Homo sapiens: one gene and its partners. The protein of the gene in region 1 interacts with the protein of each later gene in a biochemical or structural test. Each region holds a gene or a part of one and is shown in the gene's direction. Other genes may lie near its edges. The genes, in order: CSNK2A1, RPS3, SUGT1, HDAC2, EEF1D, BMAL1 and SSB.

Region 1 (3,500 bases):
CACCACCCCAGCTAATTTTTCTTGTATTTTTAGTAGAGACTGGGTTTCACTGTGTTAGCCAGGATGGTCTCGATCTCCTGCCCTCGTGAGCCACCACGCCCGGCCTTTTGTTTGTTTTCTGAGGCAGGGTTTTGCTCTGTTGCCCAGGCTGGAGTGCAATGCCATGATCATAGCTGACTGCAGCCCCGAACTTCTGGGCTCAAGTGATCCTTCCAGCTTAGCCTCCTGAGTAGCTGGGACTACAGGCGTGCACTACCACACCCAGCTAATTTTTAATTTTTTTGTGTGTAGAGAGAAAGTCTCACTATGTTGCCCAGGCTGATCTCAAACTCCTGGGCACAACCCATCCTCACACCTTGGCTCCCCAAAGTGCTGAGATTACAGGCATGAGCCACCATGCCCATCCTGTAACTAAGTTTAACCAATCTTCAGAGTAAATTCAAGAATGTTTTCTTGTTCTTCTGAATTGTATACTAAATAAAAAGGTCTTCTCCCCAGCTCCCCCAAAAAGCCTTCTTTCTCCTCACAGAAAAAGGAGAAAGGAACCAAATTAATAATAGATTTGCCAAGTGTTTAAAAATCTGAAGTTTTCTTGGGAGTATCTTTTATGCCCAGTCTTTCCAGGTTATTATCAGTTGATTTTAAAAGTTTCAGACTTTTTGTTCTTGTAGGAATTTCTTTCTTGGGGTCTTAAGGCTATAGCCCTGAGTTCAAAAAGCATTTTATGCATAAAAATAGTTTTTACAGTATTACTAATAATTGTGAAAAACAGAACACTGTCCTATTATAGGAAAATTAAAGATTGAATTCTGAAACATTTATGTAATAAAATACTAATGATACACATTAGATGGTCTCCATGGGCTAACAATTTGGAGGTTTTTTTTTTTTTTTTTTCATGTAAGTGAAGAAAACAATTCAAAATAGTATGTATATTAGCTGAGCATAGTGGTGTATGCCTGTAATCCTACCTACTCAGGAGGCCTAAGCCCAGGAGTTGGAGGCTGCAGTGAGCTATGATCACGCCACTACACTCCAGCCTGGGCAACAGAGCAAGACCCTGTGTCTTTAAAAAAAAAAAAAAAAGAGCCAGGCACAGTGGCTCACGCCTATAATCCCAGCACTTGGAAAGGCCAAGGCAAGTGGATCACAAGGTCAGGAGCTCAAGACCAGCCTGGCCAAGATGGTGAAACCCTGTCTCTACTAAAAATACAAAAAAATTAGCCAGGCGCGGTGGTGGGCGCTTGTAATCCCAGCTACTCAGGAGGCTGAGGCAGAGAATTGCTTGAACCTGGGAAGCTGAGTTGCAATGAGCCAAGATCACACCCCTGCAGCCTGGGCGACAGAGCAAGACTCTGTCTCAAAAAAAAAAAAAAAAAGTAAAAATTGTTTTAAAACCGAGTGAAAGATGCATAAAAGAAAAAACTAAAAAAAAAACTAAAAAAAAAAAAAAAAGAAAAAACTAGCCAGGCACGGTGGGTCATGCCTGTAATCCTAGCACTTTGGGAACCTGAGGCGAGCAGATCATGAGGTCAGGAGTTTGAGACCACTGGCCAACGTAGTGAAACCCCGTCTCTACTAAAAATACAAAATTAGCCAGGCATGGTGGCACGCGCCTGTAGTCCCAGCTAGTCAGGAGGCTGAGGCAGGAGAATTGCTTGAACCCGGGAGGCGGAGGTTGTGGTGAGCCAAGATTGCGCCACTGCACTCCAGCATGGGCAGCAGAGTGAGACTCTGTCTCCAAAAAAAAAAAAAAGAAAGACTAAAAAGAAATATATGAAGATGTTATTAGTGTTTTGATTTTGAGTCAGTGGAGTGATTTTTTTTTAATTTTAAAAATTAATTTTTTATTTTGAAGTGACAAGCCTGAGGATTCACAGATAATAACAGTGAGTTTACTTTTATGCAGATGTACGATTATAGTTTGGATATGTGGAGTTTGGGTTGTATGCTGGCAAGTATGATCTTTCGGAAGGAGCCATTTTTCCATGGACATGACAATTATGATCAGGTAATATATGTTATACCCATTGAAAAATGTACTGGCCTAATGCAATGATAGCCAGCACTGCCTGTAACTTTCAGTTCACTGTTTATTCAGCCACCCCGATATTGATCCTTAGATTGATGTTTCGGGAGCTACCAGCTTAGCCTTTTGAAATCAGACATTCCCCCCTAGTCTTTGTCATTTGCATTGCTTATTTTATTGTGAAGAATACATATAAATTGTCATCCAGATTTTTAAAATAGGACATTACCTTAGAATTCTCCTAATAAACCCTTATCTCCAATATGGTGTTTTCTCCAATATGTGAGCCCATATGTGGTATTTCTGTGATCCTTTTGGCTCTTTATATGGGTTGAGTTACAGATGTTTCTTAAACTAACTCCACTTCCCCCTTGAAGATCAAAGGGCTCTTTCATTCACAAGAACCTGGAATGATTCTAGGACCTTGTGGAAGGTACCATTGTCTTGTTCCCTTTGAGCACCATGTCCAATTTTAATGAGTCAAAGAATACAACCTGAATTCCATTAAAGTCAATAACTCTGTATCAAGTGCATGCAGTACTGAGGAATACAGAAAAAAGAAAGAATAGTTTTCTTCCCCTCAGATAGTTCATAGCTGATCTTGTAAGGGAGTCAAACATACAACAAAATAGGTTACAGTCATAACTTCAGAGTAGAAATGTGGACAAGGCACAAAAGGCAGTAGTGGTGAGTAGTTTGAGTGTGCAATGGGAGCTTCCCAAAAGAAGTGACATCTTCAATTGGGTTTTGAGGGGAGAAAAATAAGGGTTCACCAGGGTGACATTTCAAGAGGAAGAAACCAGTTTATAAAGTAGTTTGCTTTTTCTAACACTATCACATTGAGTTGAAGTCTAAACTGTTAGGAGGTAGCATTCATACCTGTAGACATGATGACCCGTTTATGTAAATTCAATCATTGTTAATTGTTGATTTGTTAATATAATATGCTTGTGATATGGGTTTTTGTCTTTCTTTAATACTAGTTGGTGAGGATAGCCAAGGTTCTGGGGACAGAAGATTTATATGACTATATTGACAAATACAACATTGAATTAGATCCACGTTTCAATGATATCTTGGGCAGGTAAGTCATGAAACAAAATATGTGCATCTGTGGCTTAAGCACTTTGAGAGTGAACTGGCACTTAGGATCTTCAAAATAGTTATGTTTTCTTTGCCAGCACTGTCAGGATGTCAGTGGTCCAGTGCCACAGGATGCTGCATTGAGCAGGCCTCTGATAAAGGCATTGGATTGAATGGCCCTTTATTCAAATTAACTTACAGGAGTCTGATGGAGGGGTTATAGCTAGAGGATTCCTACAAAATGAATGTAGATTCTAGTAGAAGGGTTACAGTTGAGGCAAAAATCAAAATTTACCTTGCTTCTTTAAGTGAAAAACCTCTCTCCAAGAGAAAGAAATTGAAGTAGAAAATGCATGCTTTAAGACTGATGTGCAGGCTGGGCACGGTG
Region 2 (2,445 bases), on another chromosome or scaffold:
TAGCAGATGAACTGTTACAAAGTTACAGGATCTGCTAGTCTCCCAGGGTTATAATAAGATACTAAGTCATGCCCTCACTGAACTGGCAGGCTAACAAGACTACTAAAGCAGCAAGAACTGTAAAGGGTGGTCAGTCCTGTAATGGAGAAGTGTTCTGGGTGCTTTGGGAGTTAAACACAAATAGAACTGTCCAAGGAGGGGACCAACTCCTGTTGGTCTTCTTGAGAAGGCTTTACAAAGAGCCCTGTTGCGGGGGGCGGGGCAGTGGGCAATGAGGAATAATTAGGCCTGTTACTGGGTGTGTTACGTATCCCTAGGTAGAAGTGCCTTAGTACTAGTTAGGATACCATGAAACTTTAGTAGCAATCATTCAAATCTGCTTAGTGTGTTCACTCTTAAGATGGTATTGTGAAGAGATAAGATAGACCTGATGCAAAATAGCTTAAAATCTAGACACTTAACCTCTGAGTTGCATGCAGATAGTAGTAATGTGAGGGTCTACTGGTAAGATTTCAACAGGAAGTTCTTTGTGCAGTTTGACTGTATGTAAAGGCACTGAAATGCCTTGCCTAGAGGAATGACAGGAAAGCTGTGCTGTAGGAAGGTTGACTGGTAGGGATGGGTAGTGTAGGCAAGGCTCTAGGTAAGGACATAGAAAAGACGGCTTACCTGGTTTGAGTGCCAGCTAGGCTGCTTAGAACAATGGTTCTCAAGATTAATGCCAGCCCCAGACCCACCAAATGGGAAACTGGATGTGTGACTCAGCAATCTGTCTTAATAACCCCTCCACATGCTGTTTGCACACATTGAAGCAAGTTAATGAACCTCTCAGCCTGGGATCTGTTATCTTCTAAGGTGGACCATTATACCACCTCTCAGTTGTGGAATATTAAGTAAGATAATGTGAAAGGGCCTGGAGGTGGCTAGCTCTCCAGTTAGTATCTCGCAGAGCGTAAACTGCCGAATGAGTTGGGGGGTAGGTCATATTTTAAAGTGTTTTATCAGCGTTCTAATAGCAAGATAGCCAGGATCCTAGGTGGGTAAGCTTTCCTAGTGAATGAGACTTCGGAGGTTGCAGAGTATTTCAAGGGACCACAAAGTGGGTAATTGTGGAGTGTAAATGTGGTTCTCAGTTTTGGTTATACATGAGAATCACCCAGGGAGCATTTTTAAATAGATATTCCTGGACTTTGCACATTTAATTGGCCTAGAGTAGGGCCTAGATGTCAGGGTTTCTTTTGTTTTTTATTTTAGCCTTCTGAGGTGATTCCAGTATGCAGCCAGGGTTGGAAAGTACATATTTAGGAGCTTGACATACTTGATGAATATTACCCTAAGGTTCGGAATGATAGGTGTGGAAGAGAATTGGTATTCTTGGGGCCGGACTCTGGTCAAATTATTCTCCATTAAAGGAACATTGAAAACCAAGTCTTTGTTTTGTTTTTTAAACTTGGTGGAGGTCCTTGGCAATAACACAGTGGCTCTCTTCTGTTCTTTTAAAGGGCCTGCTATGGTGTGCTGCGGTTCATCATGGAGAGTGGGGCCAAAGGCTGCGAGGTTGTGGTGTCTGGGAAACTCCGAGGACAGAGGGCTAAATCCATGAAGTTTGTGGATGGCCTGATGATCCACAGCGGAGACCCTGTTAACTACTACGTTGACACTGCTGTGCGCCACGTGTTGCTCAGACAGGGTGAGCAGCTGAGAGTGCTTGGCAAAGGGCATTTGTGGACAGATTTGGTTTTCCACAGACATCTTAAGTATTTGGGGGAGTTTATCATGGAAGTAGCTGGGCATGTTCATATTCCTTGGTGTATCGATTGCCACGTTGATCTGTAAGAATCGATTTGCTGAGATCTGTCAGATCCAAGAGTTGGTTTGTCCTTGTTTTAGCCATCTGTGTACCCTTCAGTGATGACACGATGACGAGTCAGAAAGGTCACGTCCTGCTCTTGGTCCTTGTCAGTGCCATGTTCTGTGGTGCTGTGCACGAGTTCCTTTGGCAGAAGTGTCCTATTTATTGATCGATTTAGAGGCATTTGTCTGAGAAGGGTCCAGACCCAGGGGTGCTTGAGTAAACTGCTTGCTCTCTTTGGTCTTGTGTGATGGGGGCCTTTGAGACCCCAGCTGTGTGCTAACAACTGTGGTGTCCTCTAGGTGTGCTGGGCATCAAGGTGAAGATCATGCTGCCCTGGGACCCAACTGGTAAGATTGGCCCTAAGAAGCCCCTGCCTGACCACGTGAGCATTGTGGAACCCAAAGATGAGATACTGCCCACCACCCCCATCTCAGAACAGAAGGGTGGGAAGCCAGAGCCGCCTGCCATGCCCCAGCCAGTCCCCACAGCATAACAGGTATGTCTGCAAGGGCAGGGGCCTCTTGGGGCATAATAGGGTCCTTCCGAGTCTTTCTGTTAATACTTGTATCCCACATTCTGGTAAGCGTTTG
Region 3 (3,500 bases), on another chromosome or scaffold:
CAAAGTGCTGGGATTAGAGGCATGCACCACCGTGCCCAGCCTCTTGAGTATGACTTTTAACAACTTGATTTCTTACCATTTAGTAGAGAACCTTATAATAGATTATTTAAAAGAGGTAGTGATAGAACTGTATGTTTTGCACATGGATCACTTTTTGTTATATATCATTTTGCTTTTGTATGTTTTCTTGAAATCTAAATATCAAATAGGTGTGATTAAATATATGACAAATATTATGAAACTTATTCTTTTCTGCTGTTTAATGATGTCTATAAGAATTCATGTCAAGGATACCAGATGGAAAAAAAAGGTTCTTAAATCTTTGAGAACCTTTTGAGGTTCTTAAATCTAAAATTCCATATATAATGTTTAAAATAATTTGTAACATTATTGAAGATTTGTCATTATTTTGTGTAGGTTTTTTACCCTCCATTATATACATTTACAAAATGTGATGCTAATTTTGTGTTCATTAGTTGTCTGCTTTGGTTAAACTTCCTTCTGGAGAGGATTACAATTTGAAACTGGAACTTCTTCATCCTATAATACCAGAACAGAGCACGTTTAAAGTACTTTCAACAAAGGTAAGACCATTGAAAAGTTTGTTACTAGTAATATTTTCAAAATTATAGAAATACTGGTGAACTAATCACCCATGTGTTTATAAGCTTGTAGATTCTTTCAGCCCTTTAACAGGGACAAGAAAATAAGAATGATAACTTTTGAGTATAAGGGTTATTTTACCTCTCAAATTCTAGTACAGTAAAGAATAAAAATCCACTTAGAGTGTGTGGCATTTGTGTATTTACTAAGACAGATATAATGTTTTTCAATAAAGGGGTTTTTTTAAAAAGATACAATAATCAGCCTGTCTTTAAGATTTGATACTGACAATGTCTCTTCCCTTGAACTTGTCAGTTTTGTCTGTTTTGATGTACAAATACTTTTGTCACCCTACCTCATGCAGTTAAAAATACAAACTACAAGAAAGATGAATCTGCCTTTTGTTTTTTTTGTTGTTGTTGTTGAGACGGAGTCTTGCTTTGTTGCCCAGGCTGGAGTGCAGTGGCGTGATCTCGGCTCACTGCAACCTCTGCCTCCTGGATCCAAGTGATTCTCCTGCTTCAGCCTCCCAAGTAGCTGGGACTACAGGCATGCACCACCACGCCCTGCTTAATTTTTGTATTTTTAGTAGAGATGGGGTTTCACCATATTGGCCAGGCAGGTCTCCAACTCCTGACTTTTTTTTTTAAACTGAATTTTAGATTACTCTATTATGAGGGAACAATGAGTAAATTATAGTTTGAGTAATTTTTAGATTCCTTTATAGTTTCTAAAAGAAGTAGAGATATACAACAGAATTAATATTCAGAGAGTATCACTCAAAAGATGTAGATAATAGTGTAATTTAGTAGGAAAAAAACTGAAAATTTAAAAATCTGACTCTGGATCTTTGCTTGCCCTGTGTATTTAGTCTAGGCACAAAATGACTATAAGACTGAATTTTCAGCACCTTTGAAAGGAGGGCTGTGGACCAAATGAACTCTGGAGTCCTTTCAGCTGTAGAATTGTGTGAAGGTATATGATAAATGAGTTAATGGGAATAAATGATGTAGGTAGGCTTTTTCCATTACTACTTTTTTTTTTTTTCCTTGTTTTTGAGATGTAGTCTAGCTCTGTTGCCAGGGTGGAGTGCAGTGCTGTGATCTCAGCTCACTGCAACCTCCGCCTTCTTGAATCAGGTTCAAGTGATTCTCCTGCCTCAGCCTCCTGAGTAGCTGGGATTACAGTCATGTACTGCCACGCCCAGCTAATTTTTGTATTTTTGTAGAGATGGGGTTTCACCATATTGGCCAGGATGGTCTTGATCTCCTGACCACGTGATCTGCCCACCTTGGCCTCCCAAACTGCTGGGATTACAGGTGTGAGCCACTGCACCTGGCCTATTACTCCTTTTTTTATACATAGGTCCTGCAGCATACTGTGTTAGTATTTATTAGGTTGAAGCTCTAAGGACATGTGAAGTTTCCTGTTGTGGAACAGGATCGGGGTTGGCCTGTGTTGTGAAGAATGATAATTGGGCCTGCAGAAAGGACACAGCTGCAGAGGGTTGGAGAAGAAAGTGTAAAGTGAAGTAGTTTTTTGCATCCAGTTAAAAAGGATCTGCCTACTTATTTGAAGATTGTCAAGAACAAAGCTGGTTAATTATGAGGCAGATTTTTGAAATAGCTGCTTGGGACAATAGAAAGTGAGGAAAGGGATGAAATCTTACCAGGATTTTGGTCTCTCACTGGTCCTATCCACATAGTATAGAATTTGTTTAATAAAAGAATTTTTAGTAATCAAGCACAAAATAGGTAGATTTGAGAGGGATATAGTTCATAAAATAATGAATTTGACTTTTTTTGGTATATGTCTATCGAGATTGCTAATGCAAGTGAGCTGAGATCACTACGTTGCACTCCAGCCTGGGCAACAGAGTGAGACTCTGTCTCAAAAAAAAAAAAAAAAAGATTGTTAATGCATGTCCATTTGGAGTTATTTAAATTGAGTGTGAATTAATGATAAATGACTTAAGAACTTGTATTACTGAGCCACCTCCTATAGTGGAAGAATATCATGTGTGGTAAATACATAGATGTGTGGCTAGAGTTGAGGATGTAATTAAGCACTCTTATCTCAATTCTTTTTTCTCTTTTGAGTCTTGGATTTGTTAATTTTAACCATTCTTCAACCATACTACTATGTTCTCAGTTTGCCTTTTCTGCCCCTTCCTCTTTAAATGCTAAGTGACGACTTTTCTTCCTTATATAGTAGTTTATGTATACATTTCATGTCCCTCGTTTCTGTGTAAGTCTTTGAGGATAAGAAGCATGTTTTATTTGTATCTTTGTATGTGCCCCAGTTAGGGTCCCCAGATAAAGTTACAAGATGTTCATTTAAGTTTCTATTTAAGATAAACAATGAATAATTTTTATTATGTAAATATGTTTCATGCTATAATTTTATTTGCTAAACTTGGCAGCCCTCACCACATACATTGCACAGTGGGTGCTTAGTTCAGTGAATGAATTAAAATTGGATTTTGGTTTTAGTCCCATGACATTGGCAGAGAATGTTTATTCTTAGTTTTGCAGGTGGAAAAACAATCATGTTAATGGAGTTTAAATACTTTCCCCAAGTTTACCTAGTTAACTAAATTCTTCAGCCTGGCCTAGGAGACGTAGATACACTTCTGATTGCCAACCAAACTAGTGCATCTTTGCTTAGGTTTTTCTAAGTTTTGAATTGGAGAACTTAGATTCTAAGGATGTGTCCTAAAGAATTATTATTTTTCTTGTCCTGACCCTGGAATCTCTGTATTTTATATACCATATATATATATATGTGCACACACAAAATCTTGTTAGATTACTAACTCTTAAACTATTTGGGGGGAAGCAAATTGAAAGAAGTTTTCTTAATTATGTCTTAAGGGAAATAAATGATAAAATCTTTGA
Region 4 (3,500 bases), on another chromosome or scaffold:
ATTTTTGAGTGTTCCTTTAGATGCCAGATGGGTTGTATCTGAGCCTTTTATTGCAGTTTGATGCCTACTAGTGTGAAGACTACTAGGTCATAGTGGATAGAGAAGCAATCTTTTGGAGACCTGATTTTAGCAAGGATACGAATAATATTTGACAACTTTGGGGGGATCTTGATGCCTCTGTAATTTACTCAAGGATAATCTCAAGAAAAATGGCATTAAGTAGATTACAGAAAAAATAGAACTATCATATTGTTATTATTGGCTATTTACATGAGCAATGCGGAGAAATGTTTAGGATTACAGCATTTAGAAGCTTCTCAATTGCTGCATTTCCTCACTGTACCACAAGATGGCAGATACTGCATTTAAAATTTTTTTTTCTGTGTGTTTTCTCTTATAGTCACTTGGTGGCCATGTAACAAGCAGAGCAACATGTATTAACAGATTCTTTTTGAATGCAATATTGGATTAAAAACTTTGAATTAAACTACAATTAAGTTTACTGATTTAGGTTTTCCTATAAGAATTATAACACTAATTTCTAAGTTTTACATCTGCAAAACACAGTAGAGTGTATCTGGTAGTCATTGACTAATTGTGACTTTGCTAGTCAGACAAAATGGAACTGAATATTAGAGCCAGAATAATTTTCTGTTTTGACTGGTGGTAAGAATCAGTTAGTATACAGAATGGGAAAGAATTGAAATTTATTTCTAGGAATTATAGTTATAGTGAAGTTAATATTCAGGGGCATTGGGTGCTTGTTCCACGACTTTTGTTTACTGAACTAAGTACCTAACCCCTTTGGTCTTTGAACACTGCAGAGTTATGATTAGGATTATTAATGAAAAATTCTTTTTTAGTAGAACAAACAGTTAAGGACAGAAGACACCTTGATTAGATTCTGTTATTTGCTCTTTTTATTAAGATTGTTTTTACTCTAAATGTTAAAGAAATGTATAATTATTTCTAAGGTAAAATGAGTAGCAGGATTCTGAATAGGAGATTTTTTTTGGCCAGACCCATTTTGCAGCCAGTGGTTTGTATTTAGGAGTGAGTTGAACAAAGAAGACTCTAATCTGTTTTTGTGTTGTGGATTTTTTATTCTATTGATAAATCAGTAGCTTCCAGCTTCTCTTGTATCCTCTACTAGTCATCTTTTTTGTTTCTTCAGAAATAAACATCCAGGGTCACTTCCCTGCCCTTGCCATATACTTACTAGGATGATGTACAGGTAAAACTTTTAAAGGAAAGTACGGACAGGCAATTCCTAAAGTAAAAGAGAGCACATTATCAAAACTGGCTGTACTTAACAAATACCAACAAAAAGTCATTACACTTCTGGCAACAAATAATGTTTGATTTAAAAAGACAAGAATTTCCCCTTTTGCTCTTATTTTTTAAATATGCTATGTCCTTAAGTGAGAAATGCACTTCAAAAATTTTCTTATTCTGAAGTCTAGCCGGAAAGTTTGAACTTGTGTTGCCTTTGGCTAGACTAGGTGAAATTAAGGGGCTTAAGAGGGCACTGTTGTGTGGCCCTGTGGTAGATAATAGCCCTCCAAGCATGAGGATGGGAGATCTACCATTCACCAGTATTTCCAAAGTTATATTCTTAAAAAGGCTAGATTTCTAATTTCCGTAGAATCTAGGTATGTTCTTTTCAACTCAGCATCTGATAAGAAAGTTTGGGCAAGTAGGTGCGAAAAATTTACTCTAGATACCATTTTCCAGGAAAAAATATAATTCAAGTCCAACGTATTACTAGCTGTCACCTTCCCCAACAATCAAATAAGCATTGTTATTGTCAAACACATTTACTTGTATAGTTCAGTGTTATATGTAATGGACTTAGGTATAATTCCTGTGCTATTCCCTTTTGATGCCAAACACCCTTTTGTAAGCTGTTTTGTTTGAAATCCAAATTTATATGTCTTAAAGTAAATGGCAGCATTGGGCTTTCTTAATGTAATGACTCTTCTGCCATCCTATTTCTAGAGTTAGGCAGAAAATTCTGTAAATCTATCTTATTTCCAGTCTGTTTGTGACTATGGTGGGCAATAAATCTGATTTCCCAGAAAAACACATCTGGACCCCTATAGGTAAGGTAAACAAGCCTCATCTTAAATTGTTTGTACTTCCGACCTGACCTCAAAACACCATCATCATCTAGAGCAGCAACAAGTAAAGAACAATGCACTGGAAATCACATATATGGGTCTAGCACCAGCCTTTACATTACACAACTTTGCTTTGGGCAAGTCATTTAAATTTCTGTGCTTCAGTTTACTAAATCTATGAAACTGACTAGGTAACAGCTGACATGCTTTTCCAGCACTCCGTCTTTTACCTGTCTGATGTCACAAATTGATCATTCCTTTCTGGCCTTGAGATGCGTATCAACCCAGATAGTCATTAACCCAGATAGTTGGCATTCAGGATAAAATGTTTTTGCCTTTCCTGTCCTGCAAGCTCTTTAAAGTCCAAAATATGCCTTTATATCTTTATGTGTAATAGGTATGAAATCTATTTCTTGGTTGTTGAATAGGATAGGCTTATTAGACATTCTAAAGTCAACTTTTTTCTCATATTTAAACATTTACCCGTAGAAATTCAGTTTTTTAAAGTTTTAAGTCAGTTGATTGTACCAAACATTACTATTAAAAAAAAATCAAAGTCAGAGACCAGAGTTTCCCTGCATCAGCGTTCAGTCAGGAGACAGGAACTATACTAATTTGAACATGTAAAGTTAAATATAATCCTTAATAATAACAGGATTGGAATAAGGGATAAAAGAAAGAGAATTCCTTCTATATATATGTATACACACACATATATATATATACATGTGTATATATGTGTGTGTATGTATATTATATAATATACATACACACACACAAAGAATGTCAGACAAGGAGCAGCCACCATTCTGCTTACTTTCACTGGATTAAGAGTTTCATAAGGGCAAGGGTTTTGTTTGTCTTACACTCCACTGGGGATTAATCTCCAGTGTCTAGAACAGTGCCTAACACATAAATAAAGCCTCAATTATTATTTGTGGAATGGAATGGAATTTGAGTGAAATGGAATGGGAATAGAATGGACTGGAATGGAAATAGAAGTGGGAAGGGGAATGGAAGGGGATAGAAGAGGATTGAAGAGGACAGAAGGAGATGGGATAAGATGGGATGGGATAGGATCGAATCTCAGGTCCAGGAGTCAGAATAACTGAATCCTATTCCAGTTCTGCCATCAACAAGTCCTGTGAAATTTGGAAAGTCACTTAACCCTCTGGCCTTGTAGAATATCTCAGTGGGCATGTCTGATGTTTCTTCATGGTTAGATATAGGTTGCATGTTTTGGGCAAGAATATCACAGGAATGATGCTGTGTTCTCAGTGCACCCAGTCAGGTAATGCATGATTTCAATTTCTCTCATTACTGATGATGTTAACTTTAATCACTTAGTGAATGAGAACATGAGCATCATTTTGAAAGCAA
Region 5 (3,500 bases), on another chromosome or scaffold:
CACTCAGCCTCCCTCTCCCCTCCCTCGCTCCTGCTGCCTAGTGTGGGCCCTTGTGATGACAGTGGGCCCACCTGGGTGATCCAGCATCCTCTCTGCCGCTTAACTTAATCTTATCACATCTACAGAATCCCTTTGCCATGGGAGACCATATTTACAGGCTCTGCGGACTCGTATGTGGCTTTGTGGGGGCCATTGTTCTGTCTGCCACAGCCACAGCCACCTAGGGGTGTGCTGGCTCCCGGGCCATAAGCTGGGCATCCCTGGGTGGGTGGGCCCAGGAAGGGCTGCCACTCCTGTCTGCCAGGTGGGGTGCTCCTTTGTGCCTTGCGTTCTGCCCACTGGCTTGCACCCCTGGCTTGCCCAGGCACCTGACCAAGTCCAGGCTAGGCAGACATGAGATTAAGGGAGCACAGATTTTTGCGCCCAAGTCAGGCATATTGCACTCCAGTGCCCAGAAGGCAGCGGTCGGGGGCTTGGCCCTGGGGCTGCAGGAACTCTTCAGCCCTGGCTGTGTGGAGTCAACCCTAAGGTGTCTCTGGGACAGGCAGGTGGTCGCACTGTTAGGGCTTAGGGACTGGTTTGCTGCTATAACAAAGGTCCATAGACTGGGTGACTTAAACCACATGTATTTTCTCACAGCTCTGGAGGCTGGAAGTCCATGATCGAGGTGGCAGCAAGGCTGGTTTCTCCTGAGGCCTCTCTCAGCATGTAGACCGTCTTCTCCATGTCTTCACACGGTCATCCATCTGAGTGTGTGTGTGTCCTGATGTCTTCTTATTGGACACCAGTCAGATTGGATTAGCCCCCTGCCCCTCAGTGACAGTTACCTCTGCAAAGGCCCTGTCTCCAAATAAGGTCACATCCTAAGATACCGGGGGATAAGACTCCAGCATGTGGATTTGGAAGGACATTATTCAGCCCATGGCAGGGGCCCAGTCTCATCTTGGATTTGGGGTGGGAGTGCTCAGCAGACACTGGGGTTTCAGAACTGCAGGGTTTCTGGTAGCGTGGTGCTGGCACAGGGTTACAGGCATGGGTCTGGCTCTGAAGTGTTTGCCTTTGGCATCCCCCAAGTCCCTGAGGGGCTCTCTGAGGCCCGCTGTGACTGCACTGGGTGACCTGAGCCTGCCCGTTGAAGCTGTGCTCAGGGATTCTGATGCCTGGCATCCCTAGTCCCCCCTGAGTCAGCATCAAAGGAGGGGACTCTCCCTGTGTCCTGAGTGCTGTGGGCTCTGGCCTAGTGGCCCGCAGAGCCAGGCAGTGGTGAGACGGCCCCCGCTGCTCATCATGCAGCCCGGGGCCAGTGCTGACTTAGTGCCTCTTCCAGAGGGGACCTTTTCCCTGTCCTTGGGCCTGCTGTGTGGGGTGCATGAGGCCTCAGGTGCCACTCACAGACTCCGGCCTCCTCAGGACCCAGCCCCACTCCCGCGGGAGGTCTGCTGTGATTCTCCATGCCCCCTGGCGCCCCAAAGCCTGGCCCTCCCGTGCTCCGGCTTCTGCCCCCGAGTTTGTCAGTTTCTGCCGGTGCCTCCCGTACCCCCACCACCATTCACGCGCCTCTGCCAGCCTGGCCTTTCCCTGTCCATTTCCTCCTGGCCTTGCTGCCAGGTGGGCCTCCTGGGCCAGTTTGGCTCGGCCTTGCCCATGATCTGCGGGGCTTAGCTCCCACACCCTCCAGATACATAAACAAGCATTCCCCACAGCATGGTCCCAAGGACGGTGGCAGGAGGGCCCCAGGGATGGGTTTGCACGTTGGGCAAAGGCCTGAGTATGTCCGCACCTGCTGCAAGGAGCGGCTTTGCCTGCCCGGCTACTCCAGGCCCCTCCCCACAGAGAGGGAGCCCCGGGGAGCTGCCGAGATGGGGTTTGCTGAGAGCTCCATGCAGCCAGGTGCACCCTGTCCTTCGAGCCATCCTGTTGGAGGGTGGGCAGGCTAAATGGCCCATGCGTGCAGGTAGATGCTTAAGGACTGGCTAGTGTTAAGGGCCAGGAGGCTGGGATCCTGTCTGGGCCCCGAGGTATCAGTCTCAGCTATGGCAGAGTATGAGGTGGGCTTGGGGCCCTGGATCACCTAGAGACTGGCTTGCTGAGTGAGATGGCAGGCGTGAGGCCCAGGGAGACAAAGCTTTGGGTGGCTGCTGTCCACACAGGTGGGCTCCTTCCTTCTTCCCCCACTGGGCCCTCAGCTGCTCCCGCCTCCCATTTCCAGTGCTGCCTGGTCCCCTGAGGCGTGTCCCAGGTTGTCCCTAGGACTGTGAGTCCTTCAGCACCTCCCACCCAGCCTCTGAGCCTGGCTGCTCAGCAGGATTCCGCCGGGCAGCAGCAGCCATGGCCCAGCTCCCCACAGCCTCCGTCTCTGGGGCACCAAGAGCCTCCTGTCCTGGACTTTGCCTGGCTGAGAATTTCACTGTGGTCTGTGGTGGCCGCCACCTCTGAGGTCATAAGTTTGAGCTGGGCATCAGCGGGGGGCACCTCCTGCTCTCCCGAGCTGTAGTTTTCCTTCCGTGAGTTCCTGCAGTCCTGAGCATGGCAGGGGGACCCTAGGAGCAGGCTGGGCACTGAGCCCTCCCCTCCTCCTGCCTTGCAGAGCTCAGGCCCCGGGGCCTCCAGCGGCACCAGCGGAGACCACGGTGAGCTCGTCGTCCGGATTGCCAGTCTGGAAGTGGAGAACCAGAGTCTGCGTGGCGGTGAGGCCCCGGGCCAGTGGGTTGGGGCTGTCCCTGGCCCCTGCCATCTAACCGTGCTCCCCTTGCCCCCCCAGTGGTACAGGAGCTGCAGCAGGCCATCTCCAAGCTGGAGGCCCGGCTGAACGTGCTGGAGAAGAGCTCGCCTGGCCACCGGGCCACGGCCCCACAGACCCAGGTGAATGCTCTCCCCACGCCTGACACTGCAGGGGACCACGTGGCCCTGCTGGCTTCCACGTCGCCCTGTGGGCTGGCCCCAGCAGCAGTGATGAGCTGGCAGCCAGGATACTGGAGTCCTCAGGTCCCCAGGAAGGTTTACAGTTAGCCCTGGGCAGGTGGAGGCAGTTTTTGTCTTTCCTGGGGCCCTGCATGTACACAGCTGCGGTACACAGGGGCTGCCCTTCCTCCAGTCAAAGGAGGGAGGAGGGCCAGGAGGTGGCCAGGCAGCTCTGGGCCCTGGTTGGGGCGTCTCAGCCGTGCCTCCTGTCCCTTCCCCTGTGGCAGCACGTATCTCCCATGCGCCAAGTGGAGCCCCCAGCCAAGAAGCCAGCCACACCAGCAGAGGATGACGAGGATGATGACATTGACCTGTTTGGCAGTGACAATGAGGAGGAGGACAAGGAGGCGGCACAGCTGCGGGAGGAGCGGCTACGGCAGTACGCGGAGAAGAAGGCCAAGAAGCCTGCACTGGTGGCCAAGTCCTCCATCCTGCTGGATGTCAAGCCTGTGAGTGGGCGGGGTGGGGCTTCAGGGGGCCAGGCACTGCCCTGGTGCCCGCCTAGCCGGCTCAGCCTGTGACCCTCCCCCTGCCCTCTG
Region 6 (3,500 bases), on another chromosome or scaffold:
CCTCTGTGCCTGTGTACGTCATCAGCCTTTATACATTCTAGTCCCTCAGCCACTGCTCATCCTTCTTGATCCACCTCCTCTACTGGTTTTTTGGGGGAGCCTTCCTCTCCCTAGGAAGAGTTAGATATTCCTTCCTTGGTGTATGTAATGAATGTCCATGGTATAACTGGCCCTACTTAAGCATTCTGACACTGGATGACAGTTTGTTTCTCTTTCCGTCTGCCCCTTTCATTAGATGCTTACTTCTGGAGAGTGAAGCCTTGATTTTTTTTTATTTTTTGACTCCCTACCTACATCCCATCCCACCATCGGCCGTGTACACCTCCATGGCCCAAACCTAGTGCTGACACTAACCACGAACTTTGCTTTCTAGCAGATCGAAAAAGCTTCTGCACAATCCACAGCACAGGCTATTTGAAAAGCTGGCCACCCACAAAGATGGGGCTGGATGAAGACAACGAACCAGACAATGAGGGGTGTAACCTCAGCTGCCTCGTCGCAATTGGACGACTGCATTCTCATGTAGTTCCACAACCAGTGAACGGGGAAATCAGGGTGAAATCTATGGAATATGTTTCTCGGCACGCGATAGATGGAAAGTTTGTTTTTGTAGACCAGAGGTAAGAGTCTACATACTACCCTTGAGCAATGATGGTAGAGGATTTTCAACCCTGATCTAAAAAGCAGAGAAGACTGGGCCATCAGCTGGCTTTTCTAAGAATGAAGAAAGAAAGAAAAAGCTGGGTGCAGTGGCTCACACCTCAAATCCCAGCACTTTTTGAGGCCAAGGTGGGTGGATCACTTGAGCCCAGGAGTTTGAGACTAGCCTGGGCAACGTGGCAAAACCCTGTCTCAACTAAAAATACAAAAATTAGCCAGGCATGGTGACACATACCTGTAGTCCCATCTACTCTGGAGGCTGAAGCAGGAGGATCAGCTGAGCCTCGGGAGGTCAAGGCTGCAGTGAGCTGTGATTGCACCACTGCACTTCCGCCTGGGCAACAGAGTGAGACCCTGTTTCAAAAAAAAAGAGACAAATGATGAGAGTCTCTGTTAAAAAATGAGATTCAATAGGATATCATCATAAATACAGAGATTTTTCTGTCATTCTTTGGCATATAGAGACAATTAAGTGGGGTGCCTTGATGTCCATGGCTAAAAGAAAAACAGTAGGGATAGCATGCTGTCTGAATCTATGGAATGTTCCAGAACCATTATTGTGATTGAAATTCTTTTGAATCTAGGACTTGGAAGCAATTATTTAGTCCTGAGCTGTCCAATAAAATACTCGTTGGCCATGGTAGCCTCCCATGTGGCTAACGGCACAGACATAGAACATTTCCATCATCACAGAAAGTCTTGTTGGACAGCGTTGATCTAATCCAACCTCCTTATTTTATGGATGAAGAACAGAGGCCAGCCTGGGGACTGGTCTCCTGTAGGATTCACAATTAATTGGTAATAGACCTGGACCAAGGACCCAGGTGTCCCAAATTTACTGCTGCCTACTGCTTTCCCTCAGAATATGCACAGGCTAATAATTTTTCTGGCTACTAGAGACAGCCACAACATGCTGGAAAAAGAGACAGCCTCAGCTGTCTTGTGGCCTCAGCTGCTGCAGCTTCTGGCATTTGGTTGTCCTGATAAAAAGGAGGCAGCAAAAACTAGAAGCCTTGCACTGAGGTTTAGATTTATACCACATTTTAATCTAATTAATGTGGTTCCTTTTTTAAAGACAGATCTCAGTCTGTCACCCAGGCTAGATCTAGTGCAGTGGCGAGATCTTGGCTTACTGTAGCCTTGACCTCCCGGGCTCAAGCAGTCCTCCCACCTCAGCCTCCCAGGTAGCTGTGACCATAGGCATGTGCCACCATACCCAGCTCATTGTTCTGTGTTTTTGGTAAAGACAGGGTTTCACCATGTTGCCCAAGCTAATCTTGAATTCCTGAGCTCAGACAATCTGCCCAACTCGGCCTCCCAAAGTGCTGGGATGACAGGCATGAACCACCATGCCCGACTGGTTGCAATTTTTAAAGCCCCCTCAGATTTGATTTCTTGTGATAATAGTCCCTTTACAAAGGCTTTGCTCTGTTTCCCTCTATTTTTATAGCCTTGATTAAATTCAGATGCCTGAAAAAAAGAGAGAAAGATCCACACAGTGAGCCCTCTGAAAATCCATCCAGCTCTTTTGCCTGCAGCTTTGACCTTGCTCTCATAGGCTGTAGCAGGGTTTATCCATTGCAAAGTTGCAATTAATCATCTGAATGGCTTTTTCTTCTTTAAATATTCCTTTATTCCCTTTTAGGGCAACAGCTATTTTGGCATATTTACCACAAGAACTTCTAGGCACATCGTGTTATGAATATTTTCACCAAGATGACATAGGACATCTTGCAGAATGTCATAGGCAAGGTAAGCTAGGATGTATGAAAGATCTTAAGTTGAAAGTGTCCCCTTGCTTCTAGACTAGTCAACATGACCTTCCAGGGAAATCTGTCCACTGAGGATGTAGAGTCAGCCAGCCTAGGACTCTTCAGGTCAGAACATCTGTGTGAAGAGGAAGCTGATACCTGCAGGCACTGTTTATCCCCCTTGTAGTTGCCCTGTGCTGACTGCATGGCAGTTTCTGAAAGACATCTCTTGTTCAGAGGGTTTTCCCAGACCCTGTAAAGATTTAGTATGGCCCAGACTGATCTGATTCTCTTTTCCATTCAAGCCTGCACTACCTCCTGTGTTTTCTGTCTTGACTAATGCTGTGGCTTCATGTGCAGGCTCCTGAGAGAGACCAACATTGACCCCTTCTTTCACTGTGTCTCCACCAGATCCTGTTCATTCACCTCAGACATGCATTTCCAAAAGTCTACTTTTTACCACCTCTGCCATCACCCTGGTTCAGGCCCTCGTGCCTACTTAGAGACCTGTGATAGACTTCTCAGGGTTTCTCTGATCCCTCTCACCCCCAGTTCATCTTCCATAGTTATCCTATTTATCCCCAGATAGATTGAGCCTGGTAACATCAGCCTGCTTAAAAACCTCCTGCTTTAGACTCAAGCCCAAATGCTTTTGACAGGCAATCAAATGTGAGACCTTCCACCTTCTGGCCCCAGCCCACCTCCTCAGTTTCAGTCCCCATCCCTGCCTGCAGAGGCCTGTGCTCCAGGCACACTGACCTCACTGGCCTCTCCCCAACCAGACCCTGCTGCTCCTCAGGCACTGCTGGGTTCTTCCCTCCCTCCTTCTCTTGGCAAACTCGTGTTCATCCCTCAAGGCTCTGATCTCTTCTCCCTGTATAGCCTTCCCTCACTACTCTTCTTGAGGGCAGGAGTCATAGCCTGTCTCCTCTTGTATCTCCAGTGCCTGGCACATGAGAAGGGCTCATTACATGTTACATGAAAGAATGAGGTTGAATAGGTGAGTAGCCTCTGTTGATTTGGATGTTCTTAGAAATGAGATAAGTTCTATATTGCCCTTGGGCTTTGTGATTGAGATAAAGCATGACA
Region 7 (3,500 bases), on another chromosome or scaffold:
AACTTATGTATTTTTAAATAACAGAACTTGGTACTGTAGAGTAATGTCAGGATTGGAGTCCATATTATACAGTGTTCTGAAATACATTGTAATTATCTCACAGTATTATTTTGGCGACTTCAATTTGCCACGGGACAAGTTTCTAAAGGAACAGATAAAACTGGATGAAGGCTGGGTACCTTTGGAGATAATGATAAAATTCAACAGGTAACAAGCTTTTAAAAATAATCTTTAGGTTTTCTGTTTACAATGAGTGCTACTGCTGAGTCTTATGTTTTTATATGTACTCTTCAGGTTGAACCGTCTAACAACAGACTTTAATGTAATTGTGGAAGCATTGAGCAAATCCAAGGCAGAACTCATGGAAATCAGTGAAGATAAAACTAAAATCAGAAGGTCTCCAAGCAAACCCCTACCTGAAGTGACTGATGAGTATAAAAATGATGTAAAAAACAGATCTGTTTATATTGTAAGTGGGCCTGTAATGCATTTAAATATCTTACATTTATTTAGAAAGTAAAGTACGGAAGAATAAGGGCTCAGGAATCACAGCCTCACTAATTACTGTATGTCCTTTCGTAATATTCTTAACCTAAGTTTCTTTTGTTTTGTTTTGTTTTGAGACAGTCTCATCCTGTTGCTCACGTTGGAGTGCAGTGGTGTGATCATGGCCCACTGCAGTCTTGACCTCCTGGGCTCAAGTGATCCTCCCACCTCAGCCTCCTGAGTAGCTGGGACTACAGGTGCATGCTACCATGCCTGGCAAAAAATTTTTTGTAGAGACGGGTCTTCCTGTGTTGCCCAGGCTGGTGTCAATCTCCTGGGCTCAAGTGATCCAATCACCTTGACCTCCCAAAGTGCTGGGATTACAGGTGTGAGCCACCATGCCTAGTCCTAAGTTTTATCTTCATAAACGTGGATATTTTCTACCTTGTAGAACTGTTGTGAGAATTAAATGAAAAAAAATATATATACCATTGGATGAAATCTTTGACATATTCTAAGCACCTATTGCCTATTAGCTGTTCTTATTTATCAGCAGCTAAACTTGATTGCAGTTTTCTTTAGTGTATTTTTAAATAGTTTTTTATTACGGAAAATTTCAGATACATATATAAATAGATTCAATAATGTACCATCACCAGCTTTAGTAGTTAATAACAGAACATGCAAATCATCTTGTTTTATTTCTGCTTCAACTGAATTATTTTGAAGCAAATACCAGATGAATCACTTTTATTGTACTGGAGAGTAGTGGCTCCTAAACAAGGCTGTTAAGTGATTAACAAAGAGAAATAGAGATAGATAGGTATATCCTGGGTTCATTTCAAGAAAAAATGAATCAAATTCTCTCCAATTGTTTATCTGAGAAGTCATTATTTGTTATTTGTACATTTCTTCCCACTCTTCACAGAAAGGCTTCCCAACTGATGCAACTCTTGATGACATAAAAGAATGGTTAGAAGATAAAGGTCAAGTACTAAATATTCAGATGAGAAGAACATTGCATAAAGCATTTAAGGTATGATAATACAGACTTTTTCTAGTTTTAAAATATATGGGACATAACTTAAAAAAATATTTTCCTTCCTTTTTACAGGGATCAATTTTTGTTGTGTTTGATAGCATTGAATCTGCTAAGAAATTTGTAGAGACCCCTGGCCAGAAGTACAAAGAAACAGACCTGCTAATACTTTTCAAGTAAGTCTTTTTGCTGATGTTTCTCCTGGCCTTTTACTTATATGGACACACACTAGGGTAAGGAGCATGGAAGTAGTATCCCCTGAAAGGCCAATATTCTTAGTATCTTTAGATGACCTTTGAGAAATGCTTGATATTTGTTCAGTGAGAACTATAGTCTTTTGAGACTATAAGAAAAGTGTTCATTAGTACCTTTTCACTGTTAACAATTTTTTTTTCTTTTTCTTTTTTTTTTGAGACAAGTTTCACTCTTGTCACCCAGGCTGGAGTGCAGTGGTGTGATCTTGGCTCCCTGCAACCTCTGCTTCCTGGGTTCAAGCGATTCTCCTGCCTCAGCCTCCTGAGTAGCTGGGACTACAGGCGCGTGCCACCTCGTCCACCTAATTTTTGTATTTTTAGTAGAGATGGAGTTTCACCATGTTGGCCAGGCTGGTCTTGAACTCCTGACTTCAGATCATCCGCCTGCCTTGGCCTCCCAAAGTGTTGGGACTACAGGCGTGAGCCACTGCGCCCAGCCACTGTTAGCCATTATTAAAGGAGGTTATGTTTTAATACTGATTTTGCATCTAAAACTTTTGATCAGGCTGGGTATTAAAATTTGGTCTTTTGTGTGTTTGGAAAATATATCAATGCAGTTTTCATCTTATTTTTCATAGCCTATATGTCTTTTTTTTTTTTTTTTTTTTTTTACAGTACAAAGGATTTGAGATTTGGGTCACATTCTTTGTGAATGTGTGTCTGTCTAAGTGTCTAAAAATGGGGATGAACCAGAGCATTTTCATGATAAAATTAGGTGTAGGGCCATAGTTCCCTACTTTAGAAGACTGTGCATTAGTCTTCTAAATGGTATATACTAAACTTGATTGACTTAGAGATGCACTGTGATGGGTCATAGTATCAGTGTTAAATCCTCAAAAATTATTTAACATGATTTTCATATGTTATTGTTGGATCTTGGGGATTTTAGAATTTTCTCCTTTTGTGGAATTAACACTATAGAAAACTGCAATATTATTTGCATGACTTCTGATACACTTTTTTCCCTATACATGAATGATAAATGGAAATCAACATGAAATTGCTAATGGATAGGGGGTTTCTTTTTGGGGTCATGAAAATGTTCTGAAATTAGTAGTGATGGTTGTACAACTGAATATACTAAAAAACATTCAAGGTACACTTTAAAAGAGTGAATTTTGTGGCACATGGATTTTTTCCTCAGTAAAGCTGTTATATAAAAAAACATGAGAGAGTAAATTCCTTGGCATATTTTGAATTTTTAGTTGATGATTATGTTGATAGTAAGCGTGTGCAACATTCATTGCTGTGCCATGTCTTAAGTTATTCAAAATAATCTGCAGTCTTAACTTTGTTCTCGTGAACTTAGCCTCTGTACTGTGTGTTCTTTAGGGACGATTACTTTGCCAAAAAAAATGAAGAAAGAAAACAAAATAAAGTGGAAGCTAAATTAAGAGCTAAACAGTAAGTATGTTGAACTAATCACGACATAATTTGAATTCCTTAAAGCTCTGACAGAAATATAGCTGGTGAGCTCTGAAATAGTGGCAGTAGACCTTTCTCTTTGCTAGTGAAACACTGAGATCTTAAGCTGCCTTGACAATCTCAGGGCCAAATTGCATTGCAGTCTAGCATTGGACGATCAAAAAAACCTAAGGACTTCTGGCTTTGGTTAAGTAAGTTTAGTGATCATGATTGGTTAACTTTATTAGGACTTAATTTTCTTATATAGTAAATAGAAGTATGTTATAATTATATTTTTATTTGTAGGGAGCAAGAAG

The links.
Region 2: of the proteins of CSNK2A1 (region 1) and RPS3, one has a biochemical effect on the other in vitro, tested with the Homo sapiens proteins (2 studies listed by BioGRID and IntAct).
Region 3: of the proteins of CSNK2A1 (region 1) and SUGT1, one has a biochemical effect on the other in vitro, tested with the Homo sapiens proteins (2 studies listed by BioGRID).
Region 4: of the proteins of CSNK2A1 (region 1) and HDAC2, one has a biochemical effect on the other in vitro, tested with the Homo sapiens proteins (3 studies listed by BioGRID and IntAct).
Region 5: of the proteins of CSNK2A1 (region 1) and EEF1D, one has a biochemical effect on the other in vitro, tested with the Homo sapiens proteins (2 studies listed by BioGRID and IntAct).
Region 6: of the proteins of CSNK2A1 (region 1) and BMAL1, one has a biochemical effect on the other in vitro, tested with the Homo sapiens proteins (one study listed by BioGRID).
Region 7: of the proteins of CSNK2A1 (region 1) and SSB, one has a biochemical effect on the other in vitro, tested with the Homo sapiens proteins (2 studies listed by BioGRID and IntAct).

What each region holds. Positions count from the first base shown.
Region 1 is NC_000020.11:488,291-491,790, reverse strand, and holds part of CSNK2A1 (casein kinase II subunit alpha), read left to right. Parts: intron 1-1,909; coding exon 1,910-2,011; intron 2,012-3,012; coding exon 3,013-3,113; intron 3,114-3,500. UniProt on the Homo sapiens protein: Catalytic subunit of a constitutively active serine/threonine-protein kinase complex that phosphorylates a large number of substrates containing acidic residues C-terminal to the phosphorylated serine or threonine.
Region 2 is NC_000011.10:75,402,518-75,404,962, forward strand, and holds part of RPS3 (small ribosomal subunit protein uS3), read left to right. Parts: intron 1-1,502; coding exon 1,503-1,690; intron 1,691-1,903; exon of another isoform or gene 1,904-2,049; intron 2,050-2,154; coding exon 2,155-2,348; 3' UTR 2,349-2,351; intron 2,352-2,445. UniProt on the Homo sapiens protein: Component of the small ribosomal subunit. The ribosome is a large ribonucleoprotein complex responsible for the synthesis of proteins in the cell. Has endonuclease activity and plays a role in repair of damaged DNA.
Region 3 is NC_000013.11:52,666,336-52,669,835, forward strand, and holds part of SUGT1 (protein SGT1 homolog), read left to right. Parts: intron 1-476; coding exon 477-584; intron 585-3,500. UniProt on the Homo sapiens protein: May play a role in ubiquitination and subsequent proteasomal degradation of target proteins.
Region 4 is NC_000006.12:113,933,149-113,936,648, reverse strand, and holds part of HDAC2 (histone deacetylase 2), read left to right. Parts: 3' UTR 1-3,500. UniProt on the Homo sapiens protein: Histone deacetylase that catalyzes the deacetylation of lysine residues on the N-terminal part of the core histones (H2A, H2B, H3 and H4).
Region 5 is NC_000008.11:143,580,416-143,583,915, reverse strand, and holds part of EEF1D (elongation factor 1-delta), read left to right. Parts: intron 1-2,587; coding exon 2,588-2,687; intron 2,688-2,761; coding exon 2,762-2,862; intron 2,863-3,188; coding exon 3,189-3,410; intron 3,411-3,500.
Region 6 is NC_000011.10:13,371,790-13,375,289, forward strand, and holds part of BMAL1 (basic helix-loop-helix ARNT-like protein 1), read left to right. Parts: intron 1-373; coding exon 374-620; intron 621-2,305; coding exon 2,306-2,412; intron 2,413-3,500. UniProt on the Homo sapiens protein: Transcriptional activator which forms a core component of the circadian clock.
Region 7 is NC_000002.12:169,805,371-169,808,870, forward strand, and holds part of SSB (lupus La protein), read left to right. Parts: intron 1-103; coding exon 104-207; intron 208-294; coding exon 295-469; intron 470-1,414; coding exon 1,415-1,522; intron 1,523-1,600; coding exon 1,601-1,701; intron 1,702-3,111; coding exon 3,112-3,183; intron 3,184-3,489; coding exon 3,490-3,500. UniProt on the Homo sapiens protein: Binds to the 3' poly(U) terminus of nascent RNA polymerase III transcripts, protecting them from exonuclease digestion and facilitating their folding and maturation.